2 linked regions of the Homo sapiens genome follow. The protein of the gene in region 1 purifies or fractionates together with the protein of each later gene. This does not show direct contact. Each region holds a gene or a part of one and is shown on either strand. Other genes may lie near its edges.

What was found.
Region 2: the proteins of WDR4 (region 1) and KIFBP fractionate together in Homo sapiens (co-fractionation; one large-scale study listed by BioGRID). This does not show direct contact.

Annotation. Positions count from the first base shown.
Region 1 is NC_000021.9:42,848,271-42,852,189, reverse strand, and holds the end of WDR4 (tRNA (guanine-N(7)-)-methyltransferase non-catalytic subunit WDR4), read left to right. Parts: intron 1-1,947; coding exon 1,948-2,141; 3' UTR 2,142-2,964; downstream 2,965-3,919. UniProt on the Homo sapiens protein: Non-catalytic component of the METTL1-WDR4 methyltransferase complex required for the formation of N(7)-methylguanine in a subset of RNA species, such as tRNAs, mRNAs and microRNAs (miRNAs).
Region 2 is NC_000010.11:68,987,596-68,991,602, forward strand, and holds the start of KIFBP (KIF-binding protein), read left to right. Parts: upstream 1-1,207; 5' UTR 1,208-1,237; coding exon 1,238-1,663; intron 1,664-3,532; exon of another isoform or gene 3,533-4,007. UniProt on the Homo sapiens protein: Activator of KIF1B plus-end-directed microtubule motor activity. Required for organization of axonal microtubules, and axonal outgrowth and maintenance during peripheral and central nervous system development.

The sequences.
Region 1 (3,919 bases):
GCACACACTGTGACCTGCCCGGGGTACCTGGTGTGCAGATAAAGAGGGAGAGTAAGCGTGTGTCCCCATCCAGAAGGCGGGGCAGGGCAGGAGGTGGGTGACGCACAGCAGAAGAAGGAGCCCCCCATGGGAGTCAGGCTAACGAGAGCCACTTAGGAACCGGGGGCTCAGGGTCTGAGCACCTGCCTTCAGAGTTGGGCGTTGAAGGTCCCCAGGGCAGGGCTGGCAGCTGGTGGCTCCCAGAGGGAGCTGGTGCTGTGCTGCCTCATGCCTGGTCCATGGTGTTGAGGGAATTGATCCCACTGCAGTGGGCGTCAGTAAGTGCAGGGCCTCACTGGGAGGTTTAGTGGGGGTCTAGCCAGAGGCCCCGGGGGTCTTCAGGAGGCTGAGCAGGGGCAGGATGGTCACTGTCCTGACAGGAACACTCAGCTGAGGGGAGGGAATCTAGCCAGCAACTCCCGTGGCTGCGGCTGCAGGAAGGAGAGCAGCCAGGCTGAGGGAGGAGCTGGACGAACATTTTCTACCCTGCCTTCTGGGGACACGACACACTGTAGTTCTGGGTGCGTCGTTGTGCCAGCACCTTGCAGTCTTGGAGGTGATGGTGTCTGCAGGATGGATTAGCCCAGCATGGAATCCAGGTGCCTCATTCACGACAAGAAGTTGCTGCTCTGAAGTCTTGCAAAGCTAAACCCCACTGCAGTGAGCACTGAGGTTCCTTGGAGCTCTGGAGGGATTCACACTGAGGTCGGAGGAGTTTCCGCTGATTGGGGCCCAGCCGCCTTCTGCCAGGCTCCCCGAGTGGCGGCACGCTGGCTCTGCCTCTGAGGCTTCTCTCCCTCCTGCTTTGCTTAGGATGTTGAGGGTTGAGACGGGCAGGGTTGGGCCCCCCAGCGTGGTTGGGATCTGCTTTAGGAACACTTCAGAGTGGGCCTGTCACTGGCTGTGTCAGGGACTGCAGGCGGCAGTGCTCATGGCCGGGCATCTGCAGTGCTCATGGCCCCCGTGCTCTAGGCCACGGACAGCATAGACCTGTTGAGTGTCACCTTGCACAACAGTCTCAGGCCAAAGCCTGGGCTCGCTCTCCTGAGATGTTCCATAGATAGAGCAGCCTGTTCCCGGCGCAGACTTGGGGGCCTGCGTTGGGAGAGGGACCGGGGAGGGCTGCTGCTAGAGTGTCCCACAAGCAGCAGAGTCGCTGGAGGGGCGGGGAGGCTGCGCCACCTGCTGGATGGGCAGGCTTCAGGCAGTCGCTGGTGCGCGGGTTACCGGCTGGGCCTGTGGTTTCCTGGCCAGGCTGAGGCTGTCTCCGTGTGCCTGTGGTCAGTCATTGCCCCCAATCCTTGGCACTTAGATAAAGTAGATGAAATCCGTGTCCATTCCCTGTGGCGGCAGAACATGCTATCCCACACTCGATGCCTTAAGGCACCCCACCCTTACTGTCTCACTGTTGCTGTGGGTCAGGGGTCCGGACTCAGCTGAGCTGTGTCTCTGCAGGTGGCCATCTCAGCTTCACCAGGCAGGGCCCGACTTCACTCAGTCTGGGTTGTCGGCAGGACAGGGGGCCTCTCTGGCTGTTGGCCAGAGGCTGCTGCTCCTGGTCCCCTGCCACCTGGGCCCCTCCACAGGGCGGCTCATGGTGCAGTAGTGGCTTTCTCCGGGCGTGCAAGCAGAGAGTGCTGGCGGGGTGGAGGCCCAGCCTTGGTGCCCTGGTTTCCATTACATTCTTTCATCTTTGCCCCGTTCTGTTAGTAGCCAGTCCTCAGGTCCAGCCAGGGTGTGGGTCCCAGGAGGTGGGCACCGTGGGGAGCCGTCCCAGAAGGCGCCCCCCACGGTCCACCGAGGACTCTGGGAGTCACGAGGTAACTCCCTGCTGCAGGGGGCCCGCTGTGGTGGCCGAGTCCCATGTTCCTGCCCCACCTGGCACCTGTCCTTGTTCCCCCATCACAGGCTCTGCCGGCGCAGACGCCAGCTTCAGCAGTCTCTACAAGGCCACGTTCGACAACGTGACCTCCTACCTGAAGAAGAAAGAGGAGAGACTGCAGCAGCAGCTAGAGAAGAAGCAGCGGCGCCGGAGTCCCCCGCCTGGGCCCGACGGGCATGCCAAGAAGATGAGACCGGGGGAGGCGACGCTAAGTTGCTGATCGTGGCGGTCAGTGGTGTCTCTCACCTCAAATTAGGAAAAGCTTTTTAACTTGTTCCCCTGCATCCTGGCATGTCCCTTCAAGAAGGAAAAGGTGACATCAGTTGTGACCAGCTCAGAGGATGGGGCTGTCCCCTGGGCTCTAGAAAGAACATTCTGTGTCACCAGCACAGGCTCTTGCTGGGTGCCTGTGCCCCCTTTCTGGTTGAAGGGAAGCCAGACCAGTGGAGTGGAAGCTCTTGAAGCACTTTCTTTTCATGTCGGAGGCTGCGTGTGAGCCGGTGGTGGCGGCAGCTGTCTGTGTTTCTCCTGTTCTCATACCGCCCTTCGTGTCCGCTGCATCTTCCTCTAGGAGCATCTGTGGGCTGACGTTTCTGGCATGGTGGATGTTTTCATGTTGTTCCGCCGTCTCAGCATCCAGGTGACGTGCTGTCCCGCAGTAGCTGCTCGCCACACAGGCTGTTGAAACTCAGCACGAATGCTTGAGCCTGCCCCAGCCCCAGCCGTAGCCCTTGTGCTCAGGAGCTGCTCCTGGAGAGTGGCTCCCTTGTGGGAAGTGAGAAACACGTTTCGGAGTCGCAGGGAGCTCTGTCTGGCATCGGTGGCACAGATGGTGAACTTGTTTCAGGAAGTGTGAGCACGGGCCTGGCTGGCACCCGGTTTACAGGGAGGTGATTGAGGACGTCGTTATGATTTGATTTGACCTTGGCACACACTGCAGAGCCACAGGGATGTTGCTGAATTTCAATCACCGATCAGCAAGGATGAACCTTCTCAACTTCCTAGGAATGTTTAGCAGCAACCGAATATACCAGGCAAAACTCCTTGGTGCCTGCGCTGTGTGTGTGTGAGGTGCGCGGTGTGATTGTGCGCTGTGTGTGTGTGAGGTGCACGCTGCGTGATCGTGTGCTGTGTGAGGTGCGCGCCGCGTGATCGTGCGCTGTGTGTGTGTGTGAGGTGCGTGGTGTGATCGTGCGCTGTGTGTGTGGTGCACGCCGCGTGATCGTGCGCTGTGTGTGTGAGGTGCGCGGTGTGATCGTGCGCTGTGTGTGAGGTGCACGCTGCGTGATCGTGTGCTGTGAGTGAGGTGCGCGCCGCGTGATCGTGTGCTGTGTGAGGTGCGCGCCGCGTGATCGTGTGCTGTGTGAGGTGTGCGCCGCGTGATCGTGCGCTGTGTGTGTGAGGTGCGCGGTGTGATCGTGTGCTGTGAGTGAGGTGCGCGCCGCGTGATCGTGTGCTGTGTGAGGTGCGCGCCGCGTGATCGTGTGCTGTGTGAGGTGCGCGCCGCGTGATCGTGTGCTGTGTGAGGTGCGCGCCGTGTGATCGTGCGCTGTGTGAGTGAGGTGTGCGCCGCGTGATCGTGCGCTGTGTGAGTGAGGTGCGCGCCGCGTGATCGTGCGCTGTGTGTGTGAGGTGCGCGGTGTGATCGTGCGCTGTGTGTGAGGTGCACGCTGCGTGATCGTGTGCTGTGAGGTGCGCGCCGCGTGATCGTGTGCTGTGTGAGGTGCGCGCCGCGTGATCGTGTGCTGTGTGAGGTGCGCGCCGTGTGATCGTGCGCTGTGTGAGTGAGGTGTGCGCCGCGTGATCGTGCGCTGTGTGAGGTGCGCGCCGCGTGATTGTGCGCTGTGTGAGTGAGGTGCGCGCCGCGTGATCGTGTGCTGTGTGAGTGAGGTGCAGGCCACGTGATCGTGCGCTGTGTGTGTGTGAGGTGCGCACTGCGTGACCGTGCGCTGCATGTGAGTGAGGTGTGCGCCGCGTGATTTGGGAAGAGGCTTCTGC
Region 2 (4,007 bases), on another chromosome or scaffold:
AGCTTAAAAAAGTTAACTTGTCAATAAGAAAGCTGGTTGGTCTGAGGTTCAAACCATATGTCTATGAGCTCCCAAAATCAATGCTCCTTTGTATGTCTCAAAGCACTGTACACAGCTGGTGCTTAATAGTTAAAATCTTCTATCACCCCTCCCCATTTGACTTGATAACTTAGGAAGGTAAAAGGCATGAGGCGGCTTTCACAGCTGTGGGACTTAGCTCTTGTTACCTTGGGCAGTTGTACAGATTCCTACAACCTGTATTTCAGGGTCGAAGTGAAAATATTTGTCTATCACTGAGTGTTTTGTATATTTATGGCTCTCGATCAAGAGATTATGTGTCAATGATAATAATCAGCTCTTGGCTACATTTCAATTTTTTTTCTTTTATTTTACTTTTAAGTTCTGGGATACATGTGCAGAACATGCAGGTTTGTTACATAGGTATACATGTGCCATGGTGGTTTGCTGCACCTATCAACCTGTCAGCTAAGTTTTATGCCCCGCATACATTAGGTATTTGTTCTAATGCTCGTGTTTTCTTTTTTTCTGAGGCAGTCTCGCTCACTGTAACCTCCACCTCTTGGGCTCAAGCCATCCTTCCGCCTCAGCCTCCATGGTAGCTGGGACTACAGTCGCGCGCCACCACGCCCGGCTAATTTTTTAAAAAAAATTATGTAGAGATGGGTCTTGCTATGTTGCCCACTCCAGTGGGCATCCCAAAATGTTACTGGCATCCCAAAATGTTAGGATTGCAGATATGAGCCACTGCGCCTGGCCTTTTTTAAAAAAAGTTTTATCCAGTGACAGGCTGGGCTATACACTTAATGTCTAAAGGTTTTTGCCTTTCAGTTCATATCAACGCGAGTAGAGTTAGCTAGCTATGTTTGTAAACAATATTCCGATATGCTTCGTTAAAGTAAGCCGATATTAAACATTTATATAAATCCATCCTCACAGGGTCAATCTGGAGATAAACTCACCGCTGCAGGGGGCGGGGAAGGAGGTGGGAACACGCTCATTGACAACTTCATTTCCATGAGAATGGTTGCTGTGGTGATTGCTGCGTCTTCCCATTGGTCATTGCCGAGCGTATTGCGGTTCTCCGGGAGGGTTATATTGGTTCCCATTCCACAGCGGCCGCAACGTGTCGAGAGCCGTAAGTAAAGTGTCGCAAAGCAGAAGGAAGGCGGGAGTCCCGACTGCAAACATTGAGGAAAGCCAGGCAGTAGAGGCCGCTATGGCGAACGTTCCGTGGGCAGAGGTCTGCGAGAAATTCCAGGCGGCGCTCGCTCTGTCGCGGGTGGAACTGCATAAAAATCCGGAGAAGGAACCATACAAGTCCAAATACAGCGCCCGGGCGCTACTGGAAGAGGTCAAGGCGCTGCTCGGCCCTGCGCCTGAGGACGAGGATGAGCGGCCTGAGGCCGAGGACGGCCCGGGTGCCGGTGACCACGCCCTGGGGCTGCCGGCTGAGGTGGTGGAGCCCGAGGGGCCCGTCGCCCAGCGAGCGGTGAGGCTGGCAGTCATCGAGTTCCACCTCGGGGTGAACCACATCGACACGGAGGAGCTGTCGGCGGGGGAGGAGCACCTGGTGAAATGCCTGCGGCTGCTGCGCAGGTACCGGCTCTCGCACGACTGCATCTCTCTCTGCATCCAGGCGCAGGTGAGAGCGAGCCCGGCCAGGCCGGCCCCTGTTGGCAAATGGCGAGGGATGGGGAGGAGCCCCTGCCAAGGCCAAGGGCAGACGTTGTAAGGCGCAATTCGTCCCCACGTTTTTGTAGCTCTGGACTGAGTCCCAAAGAGCGTCTGTGGTCTTCAAAAAAGCCAGTCTTATGGACTTATTGCCTTGTAACTAGATCTCCCACAGTCGGCCGTCCCCAGACTCCGTGTCCACCCTCGTCGCCCACACCAATATCGCTTGCTGCTGCTTCACTTAGACGTGGCGATGCATTGGTGTCCGAGACCCTCCTACATCGTCATGCGCTTTCCTCTCCACCAGTCCAACTCCTGTTCATTCTGTTAAGAAAATCCAAAGTAATTTAAATCTTAACGTCTCAAGGAAATGACAATGACCGGAGTACATTCTTTTTTGGTTTTGTCTTGTTTTTGTTTTTTTCTTAGAGATGGGGTCTCACTGTGTCGCCCAGGTTCGAGTTAAGTGGCACCATCATAGCTCATTGCAGCTTCCACCTCTTGGGCTCAAGCAGTCCTCCTGCCTCAGCCTTCATAGTAGCTGGAACCACAGGCGCATGCCACCATTCTTGGTAATTTTTTTAATTTTCTGTAGAGATGGGGGTCTCACTATATTGCCCAGGCTGGTCTTGAACTCCTGGACTCAAGTGATCCTTCTGGCTCACCTTCTCAAAGTGCTGGGATTACAGGCCTGAGCCGCTGTGCCTGGCTCGGAATACATTCTTAATTCAAAATAAAATGTCCAAAATCTGCAGCTTCCTTTCTTACCAAATTCATTTGTTTGCATCTTAGGGAATTCTTCCCCATTCTTGAAAACCTATCTCAAGAATCACTTCCTTTAGTATTAATAACTTTCTTGGGACCATTTTGGGCCAAACTGATCTCTCCCTCCTACCTTTGAATTCTTATAATACTTTTTGTTTCCCATTTATATGGTACTTGGTTTCTTAAATAAATCTGGGCAGGGCACAGTGGCTCCCATCTGTAATCCCAGCATTTTGGGAGGCCGAAGTGGGAGGATGGCGTGAGGTCAGTAGTTCAAGACCAGCCTGGGCAACAAAGTGAGACTCTGTCTCTTAAACAAAACAAAACAAAACAAAAAACCCACAAAACTAGCCAGGCATGGTGGTACACGCCTGTAGTCTTAGCTACTGGGGAGGCTAGGTTGAGCTGGGAGGATCACTTGAGCCCCTGGAGGAGCCATGATCATGCCACTGCAACTGCAGTCTGGGTGACAGAGCAAGACCTTTTCTCAACAACAACAAAATCCACATCAATATTCTAAAGTAATATTGGTCAACACCTGTGAAAAGAAGGGGTGAAAAAAAGAAAAATACTTTAAAAAGTTAAAATAATATTGGGACAGGTGAACATGGATGTTTATCACAGCAGTGTTGATTATTAAAGAAGGAAAATCGCAGGGCTGAGGCAGGAGGATCGCTTGAGCCCAGGAGGTCAAGGCTGCAGTGAGCCAAGATTGTATCACTGCACTCCAGCCTGTGCAACAGAGTGAGACCCTGTCTCAAAAAGCAAAGAAAAGGAAAACAATATAAATGTCAGTAGGAATATGATTAAATTCCGTTACATCCAAACAGAAGAACAGTACACAATTATTAAAAATAATAATTTATATTAACAAAAATTGGCAATATGAAGAGGGAGGAAGAAGACTATAAGCCATATTTAGAATTATGTAGAAAAGGCCGGATGTGGTGGCTCACACTTGTAATCCTAGCACTTTGGGAGGCTGGGATGAGATGATCACTCGAGCTTAGGAGTTCAAGACCAACCTGGGCACATAGTGACACCTCATCGCTACTAAAAATAAGAAAAAAAAATTATTCCAGGCATGGCTGCTTTGCTAGGCAGTATGTTCTTTGGGCAGCCATCGGGGCCCCAACCACCACCGGGGCTCTGGGGCCAGGCTTCCTTTACTTACCAGCAGCTCCAGGGCCTCTGAGACCTTCTAACAGTACTTTGGTGGATGACATGGAGTCATCTTTCCAGACTTGCTTTGCCTCTCCGTTAAGTCAGGACTATGTCAATGGCAGCAATCAGGAAGAAATTGGAACTGGTGTTGATCGGTGTATACACAAGTTTCTGGATATTGCAAGACAGAATATTTCTTTCCTACAAAAAAGATTGCAATTATCTGTCCAGAAACCAGAGCAAGTTATCAATGAGGATGTCGATGTCTCCGAACTAAGAAATGAATAACATTGGAGACATGCACTGGTCCAGAAGCACTTGACAAAGCTAAGGCATTGGCAGCAAGTGCTGGAGGTCATCACGTGCAGTACAAAAAGCTAGCTGAC